Linked DNA regions of Homo sapiens. The protein of the gene in region 1 interacts with the protein of each later gene in a pairwise test. Each region holds a gene or a part of one and is shown on either strand. Other genes may lie near its edges.

The links. Proteins that work in one complex are often made in the same cells at the same time.
Region 2: the proteins of VPS9D1 (region 1) and SYT17 interact in binary tests that used the Homo sapiens proteins (3 or more experiments, as listed by UniProt).

What each region holds. Positions count from the first base shown.
Region 1 is NC_000016.10:89,710,727-89,714,569, reverse strand, and holds part of VPS9D1 (VPS9 domain-containing protein 1), read left to right. Parts: intron 1-1,751; exon of another isoform or gene 1,752-1,853; coding exon 1,854-1,965; intron 1,966-2,047; coding exon 2,048-2,110; intron 2,111-2,347; exon of another isoform or gene 2,348-2,470; coding exon 2,471-2,523; exon of another isoform or gene 2,524-2,600; coding exon 2,601-2,688; exon of another isoform or gene 2,689-2,714; intron 2,715-3,157; coding exon 3,158-3,243; intron 3,244-3,559; coding exon 3,560-3,843.
Region 2 is NC_000016.10:19,181,740-19,185,239, forward strand, and holds part of SYT17 (synaptotagmin-17), read left to right. Parts: intron 1-1,723; exon of another isoform or gene 1,724-1,788; coding exon 1,789-2,408; intron 2,409-3,500. UniProt on the Homo sapiens protein: Plays a role in dendrite formation by melanocytes.

The DNA.
Region 1 (3,843 bases):
CCTTGTTTCTGCAATGTGGCTTCAGGGCAGGGTGGCCAGGCGTCAGGCTCTGACTTTCCTCCTTGTCCTCCATTGTCCCTGACAGTGGGAAGGTACGAGGGAACAAAGCTTTCAAGGTGGAGTGGCTGTTGGGAACTGTATAAAGGAGACAGGACACTTCTTCCTTTCATGGGTCACAGACTAATCTGGCTGTTTGACCCACATAGTGCCTTTAAAGCAGGGGTGTCCAATCTTTTGCCTTCCCTGGGCCACACTGGAAGAATTGTCTTGGGCCACACATAAAATACGCTAACACTAACAACAGCCGATGAGCTTAAAAAAAAAAATTGCAAGGCTGGGCGCAGTGGCTCCCGCCTGTAATCCCAGCACTTTGGAAGGCCAAGGCGGGCAGATTACCTGAGGTCAGGAGTTCGAGATCAGCCTGGCCAACATGATGAAACCCCATCTCTACTAAAAAATACAAAAATTAGCTGGGCGTGGTGTCACATGCCTGTAATCCCAGCTACTCGGGAGGCTGAGGCAGGAGAATCACTTGAACCCAGGAGGCGGAGGTTGCAGTGAGTTGAGATTGTGTCACTGCACTCCAGCCTGGGCGACAGAATGAGACTGACTCAAAAAAAAAAATTTTGCAAAAAAACCTCAGTGATTTTTTGAGACAGAGTCTCTATCACCCAGGCTGGAGCACAGGCACATGCCACCACACCCGGCTAATTTTTTGTATTTTTAATAGAGACGGGGTTTCACCATGTTAGCCAGGATGGTCTCAATCTCCTGACCTCATTATCCGCCTGCCTCATCCTCCCAAAGTGCTGGGATTACAGGCGTGAGCCACCGTGCCCAGCCCTCAGTGATGTTTTAAGAAAGTTTAGGAATTTGTGTTGGGCCACATTCGAAGTCATACAGCCTCGGATTGTTGCACAAGCTTGCTTTAACAAGATTCATACTGTTGCCAAACACATATAACGGATCTCCATAGAAGTCCAGTGGTCCAGCTTCTCTTGAAAAACCAAAAGTCCGGCCGGGCGCGGTAGCTCACGCCTGTAATCCCAGTACTTTGGGAGGCCGAGGCGGGTGGATCACGAGGTCAGGAGATCAAGACCATCCTGGTTAATGCGGTGAAACCCCGTCTCTACTAAAAATACAAAAAATTAGCCGGGCATAGTGGCGGGCACCTGTAGTCCCAGCTACTCAGGAGGCTGAGGCAGGAGAATGGCATGAACCCGGGAGGCGGAGTTTGCAGTGAGCCGAGATTGCGCCACTGCGCTCCAGCCTGGGCGACAGAGCGAGACTCCGTCTCAAAAAAAAAAAGAAAAAAAGAAAAACCAAAAGTCCTGGCAATACCAAAACCTGTGTTTTCTTTCTTTTTGTTATTTTTTGTTTTGGTTTTGTTTTTTTGAGACAGAGTCTCACTCTATCACCCCAGCTGGAGTGCAGTGGCCAGATCTCGGCTCACTGCATCACCTCCCGGGATCAAGCTATTCTGCCTCAGCCTCCCGAGTAGCTGGGATTACAAGTGTGCACCATGCCCAGCTAATTTTTGTATTTTTAGTAGAGACAGAGTTTCACCATGTTGGCCAGGCTGGTCTCGAACTCCTGACCTCAGGTGATCCGCCCGGCCTTAGCCTCCTAAAGTGCTGGCATTAGAGGCGGGAGCCACTGCACCTGGCCAAAACCTGTGTTTTGGAAGGGCAGGCAAGAAGGGGCAGATGTTGCAGCCCACCCCAGATGGCTCCCCTCCTCTTTCTCCTCACCTCCTGGCCTCAGAGCAATCCGGGAGGATGAGAGAGACTCCTCTGGTGTCCAGACACCACTGGGCTTCCTGGGGTCTAGACAGCAGCTTGTCACATTTCCAGAGAGCTGACGCCACTGGAGGAGGCCTCCCTGCAGAATCAGAAGCTGAAGGCTGCGTATGAGGCCCGAATGGCGCGGCTAGACCCCAGCCAGGCCATGCAGAAGACATCCCTGGTGAGTGGGGGCTAGGGAGGGCCTGGGGGTGCGTGGGCGCGGGGCAGAGGGGAGTCGGCCTTACTCCCTCCTCCCCCCCCAGACCCTCTCTCTACAGCGGCAGATGATGGAGAACCTAGTGATTGCCAAAGCCCGGGAGGAGACAGCAGCCTTTCTGACCGCCCTGGTGGTCCCCGAGGGGAAACTCAGTGTGGCCTTGAGCCAAGGGCAGAGAAGGGGGCAGCGAGGGGAGCGGAGGTTCCGGGGTCGGGGTACAGGGCCGAGGGGCTCCCCGCTTTGCAGAGGCAGGGTCTCAGGGGAAGGCCCGGCCGCCGTCCCCCATGTTCTCTGGCCCGGCCCTCCTGGCTTGAGCGCAGGCTGCCTTCTGCCCCAGAAGCCTTACCTGGGGACAGCCCCTCACCGAGAGGAGGTCCCTGGGACGTCCCGGCCTCTCCGGGTGTGGGACGGGGTTGGGAACCGAGGGCCCGCTCAGATCCCACGCTCGGCCCCTTGACTCTGCACCCAGCTCCAGAGAAAGATGGAGGAGCGCCGGCTGCGGCTCCAGGAGGCCGCCAACAGGTGGGACTCCTGCCCGCCCCTGGGGCCGCTGCGGGGAGGGCCTGGCCCCGGCACCCACCGCGTGCCTTTCTCCCCAGGAGGTTTTGCAGCCAAGTCGCCCTGACCCCGGAGGAACGGGAGCAGCGGGCCCTTTACGCCGCCATCCTGGAGTACGAACAGGACCATGTGCGTCCCCCACGGGCCCAGGCTTTGTAGGAGGAGCCCAGCGAGGGGGGCGGGGTCAGAGCCGCCTGGGTGGGCCCCCGTGGGGGGCGGAGCCAGAGGCTGTGGGGGGCAGTGAGGGGGCGGGGCCAGAGGCCCGTGGGAGGGCCCGGTGAGGGGGCGGGGCCAGGGCTGCGTGGGGCGGGGCAGAGCGAGGAGGCGAGGTCAGGGGTCGCGTGGGAGGGTCCCAGCGAGGAGGGAGGGTCCCTGCGAGGAGGGAGGGTCCCAGCGAGGGTGCAGGCCCAGGGTTCGCCTAAGGTTTCCCTCGGGTGTGGGTGGGGGCGGGGGCGGGTCGCGGGGCCTGCTGGCGCTGGGTCTCCTGCACCCCAGGACGGGCTCCCACAGTCTCTAGGGGTCGGCACTGGTGGGAGATGAGGCGCGTCCGGTCGTGGCGGACCCACCGTGCTTTCCTTCAAGGCCCCCTGTCCCGTAGGACTGGCCGAAGCACTGGAAGGCCAAGCTCAAGAGGAATCCGGGGGACCTGTCACTCGTGACCAGCCTGGTCTCACACCTGCTCAGGTAGCTGGGCCTTCAGGCCCCACAGAGCCCCTGCGCACCGGCCTTGGGCACCTCTGCCTGGTGCCAGGTGCCGGAGAGGGGCTGGACTGACACAGGGAGCCTGTGCCCGGCCACGTGGACACTGCAGCTCCCTTTGCGCTGAGGGCGTTTCCTCGGCTTCTCCAACCTCCCCAGCGGGGGCGGGGGGCAGACTTTCCAACATTCACTGTCAGGAGGTAATGCAAGTCGCTTCTCTGAAACCGGGCATAGCGCGGCACCTGTGGATGCCACGGAGAGGCCGAGGCTGGCCGCGTTCTCACGTCCTCTTCTCCCGCAGCCTCCCCGACCACCCGATCGCGCAGCTCCTGAGGCGGCTGCAGTGCTCCGTGTACAGCGCCCTGTATCCCGCCGTGAGCAGAGCAGCCGCGCCAGCCCCAGGCTGCTGCCCCCCGACCCCCAACCCCGGAAGCCGACGGCTGCGGCCCTCGCAGAGCCTCCATTGCATGCTGTCCCCGCCCGAGCCCAGCGCAGCCCCGCGGCCCCAGGACAGTCCCCCCACGCCCCCACTCCAACCCGGCCCCGTGGGGTCTCCCTCACCCCTGGGGGACACCGCATCTGGAT
Region 2 (3,500 bases), about 71 Mb from region 1:
CTGTAATCCCAGCACTTTGGGAGGCCGAGGCGGGAGGATCACCTGAGGTCAGGACTTCGAGACCAGCCTGGCTAACATGGTGAAACCCCATCTCTACTAAAAATACAAAATTAGACGGGCATGGTAGCGCATGCCTGTAATCCCAGCTACCTGGGAGGCTGAGGCAGGAGAATCGGTTGAACCCGGGAGGTGGAGGTTGCAGTGAGCCGAGATTGCACCACTACACTCCAGCTCAGGCAACAAAAATGAAACTCTGTCTCAAAAAAAAAAAAAAAAAGAGAGAGAGGATTTAAAGTATCTCACTAAAATATTTTTATATTGGTTCCATGTTGAAATGAGTATACATTGGATATAGTGGGTTAAATAAAATAAAATATTAAAATTAATTTTGCAGGCTGGGCGCGGTGGCTCACGCCTGTAATCCCAGCACTTTGGGAGGCCGAGGCAGGCAGATAGCTTGAGGCCAGGAGTTCAAGACCATCCTGGCCAACATGATGAAATTCCATCTCTATTAAAAATGCAAAAATGGGCCAGGTGTGGTGGTATACAACTGTAGTCCCAGCTACTTGAGAGGCTGAGCCATGAGATTCACTTGCACCTGGAAGGTGGAGGTTGCAGTGAGCCGAGATCCGCCACTGCACTCCAGCCTGGACGATAGAGCAAGACTCTGTCTCAAAATAAATAAATAAAATTAAATGAATTTTGCCCTTTTATTTGCATATTTTAAAAGTCGTGGCTGCCAGAACATTTTAAGTTACATGTGTGGCTTGCATTTCTGGCTTGCGTTATCTTTCTATGGACAGTGTGGGCCTAGGTAATTTCTAAGTCTCATGCCCAGCTCTGAACACAGGTTATCTCCATTTAGCATACATCTATCAGAGTACCTCCCATGCCTCTGGCAAATGTCTCATAAAGACAACTGTTTGGGCAATTAGCAAGAATGCCATGAGCTCATTGCTAGAAGAGAGGGATGTGCAAAGGTTGGAATAATGAACTTGGGATCAATGCATTCTGCTGGTTCATGGAAGGGAGAGAGGCGGCCCGTAAGCGGTGAGGTTTGAATATGAACCTTGAAGAAGTACAGTCGTTCCCATTTATTGGTCTGTGCCTACGGGCACATTCTGTGCCATGCTCTTTTCATGCCCTGGCTCAGTGAATCTTCACCACATTCTTTGAGGTAGGTGCCGTTATTGACTCTATTTTACTGATGGGAAAACAGAGTCCCAGAGAGTCAAAAGAATATGCCCGGAGTCACATGGCTCACTGGTAATGAGTACACGAGTAGTGAGTAAGTGGCTGAGATGGAATTCCACCCAGGCACTCTGGTCCCAGAGCTCACTCTCTTAAAGTGGAGACATCGTAGGATAATGGTTAGAGCCAGACTCTGGGGTCAGCTAGACCAGCCTGACCCCTGGCTCCTACACTTGCAAGTGTGTGACCTTCAGAAAGTTACTTAAAGCTTCTGTTTCCTCGTCTATAAAGTGGGGATAATAGTAATTATCTAATAATTCAAGGGGATGTGAAGATTGTGATTGCACATATGCGATGATGTAGTGTACACAGTCCATTAGAGCAGTGCCTGGCACTTAGCTGCTGTGATGATGGCAAGGTGTCAATAGTGCCACCAAACTATCTGTCACAGAATCAGTGAGTATTTCAGAGTGTGGAGAAAGATGGCAAAGGTCATTCTGAAGCAGAGTAAACAATGCAAGAATCTGCTTACCTGCAAAGTGGCCCAGGTCTGCCCCGTATGTGGCTGTCTTCATTGTTATTTCTGGTGGCTCTCAGGTCTTGAGTCAAGACGTCCCAGCTCTCCACTCATCGATATTAAACCCATCGAGTTTGGCGTTCTCAGCGCCAAGAAGGAGCCCATCCAACCTTCGGTGCTCAGACGGACCTATAACCCCGACGACTATTTCAGGAAGTTCGAACCCCACCTGTACTCCCTCGACTCCAACAGCGACGATGTGGACTCTCTGACAGACGAGGAGATCCTGTCCAAGTACCAGCTGGGCATGCTGCACTTCAGCACTCAGTACGACCTGCTGCACAACCACCTCACCGTGCGCGTGATCGAGGCCAGGGACCTGCCACCTCCCATCTCCCACGATGGCTCGCGCCAGGACATGGCGCACTCCAACCCCTACGTCAAGATCTGTCTCCTGCCAGACCAGAAGAACTCAAAGCAGACCGGGGTCAAACGCAAGACCCAGAAGCCCGTGTTTGAGGAGCGCTACACCTTCGAGATCCCCTTCCTGGAGGCCCAGAGGAGGACCCTGCTCCTGACCGTGGTGGATTTTGATAAGTTCTCCCGCCACTGTGTCATTGGGAAAGTTTCTGTGCCTTTGTGTGAAGTTGACCTGGTCAAGGGCGGGCACTGGTGGAAGGCGCTGATTCCCAGTTCTCAGGTAAGGGATGGGTTTGTGGTGTTTCCTCCTGGGAGCTTTTTTAAAAAGTGATTATTTTTATTTTATTTTACTGTTTAAAAGGCTTTTTTGGATTTTTAAAACTTTTTATTTTGAAATAATTTTTGACTCACAAGAGGTTGCAAAAATAGCAGAGAGTTCCTGTGTCCTCTTGATCCAGCATGATAGCATCTTACGCAACCAGGAAATAGATGTTGGTAACTAACCTAGAGCTTACTCAGATTTCAGTAGTTTTTTTTTTTTTTTGAGACGCTCTGTCACCCAGGCTGGAGCGCCGTGGCGTGATCTTGGCTCACTGCAAACTCCACCTCCCAGGTTCACGCCATTCTCCTGCCTCAGCCTCCTGAGTAGCTGGGACTATAGGCGCCCGCCACCACGCCCTGCTAATTTTTTTGTATTTTTTTTTTTTTTAGTAGAGATGAGGTTTTCCGTGTTATCCAGGATGGTCTCGATCTCCTGACCTCAAGATTTCACTACTTTTTACATGCATCACTCATGTGTGTGTCTTTCTGTGAAAATTTATCACATGTATAGATTCCTGTAACCACCACCACTCTGGAAGCCTTTTTTAAATCATCGATGCTGAGTTATTTAATAAGGAGAATGATTGCACAGGGTATAAAGCTATCAATCATTTTGACTTTCAGAAATTGATTTTTTTGGGGAAAAAGTGAAGGCTGGAAAACAGGATGATGCATGGATGTTTTTCAGGCCAACTGTTAGATTGGCTTCCTTCCCCCTGTCCAGCCCAGGGAAATGTGGTTGGCTGCTCGGGAAGCCACCCACGGACCAGGCTGTGTCTCCAGTCGGCTGTTGTGCATTCCTGCATATTAGAGGGTAACTGTCTACCCATTGTAGGTAGAAGGATGTGGGGAGCCCAAGGAAAGGAAAAGACCCAGCCACTCCTTCCTCCTTCCCTCCCTTCCCGCTTCTCTCTTCACTCCCTCCCTCCCTTCCTTCCCTGCTACCCTCTTCCCTCCCTTTCTCCCTCCTTCCCCTCCTTCCTCCCTCCCCTCCTCCCCTCTTCCCTTCCTTCTCTCCCTGTCCTGTGGGATGGCTGTTGTAGGAACAGGG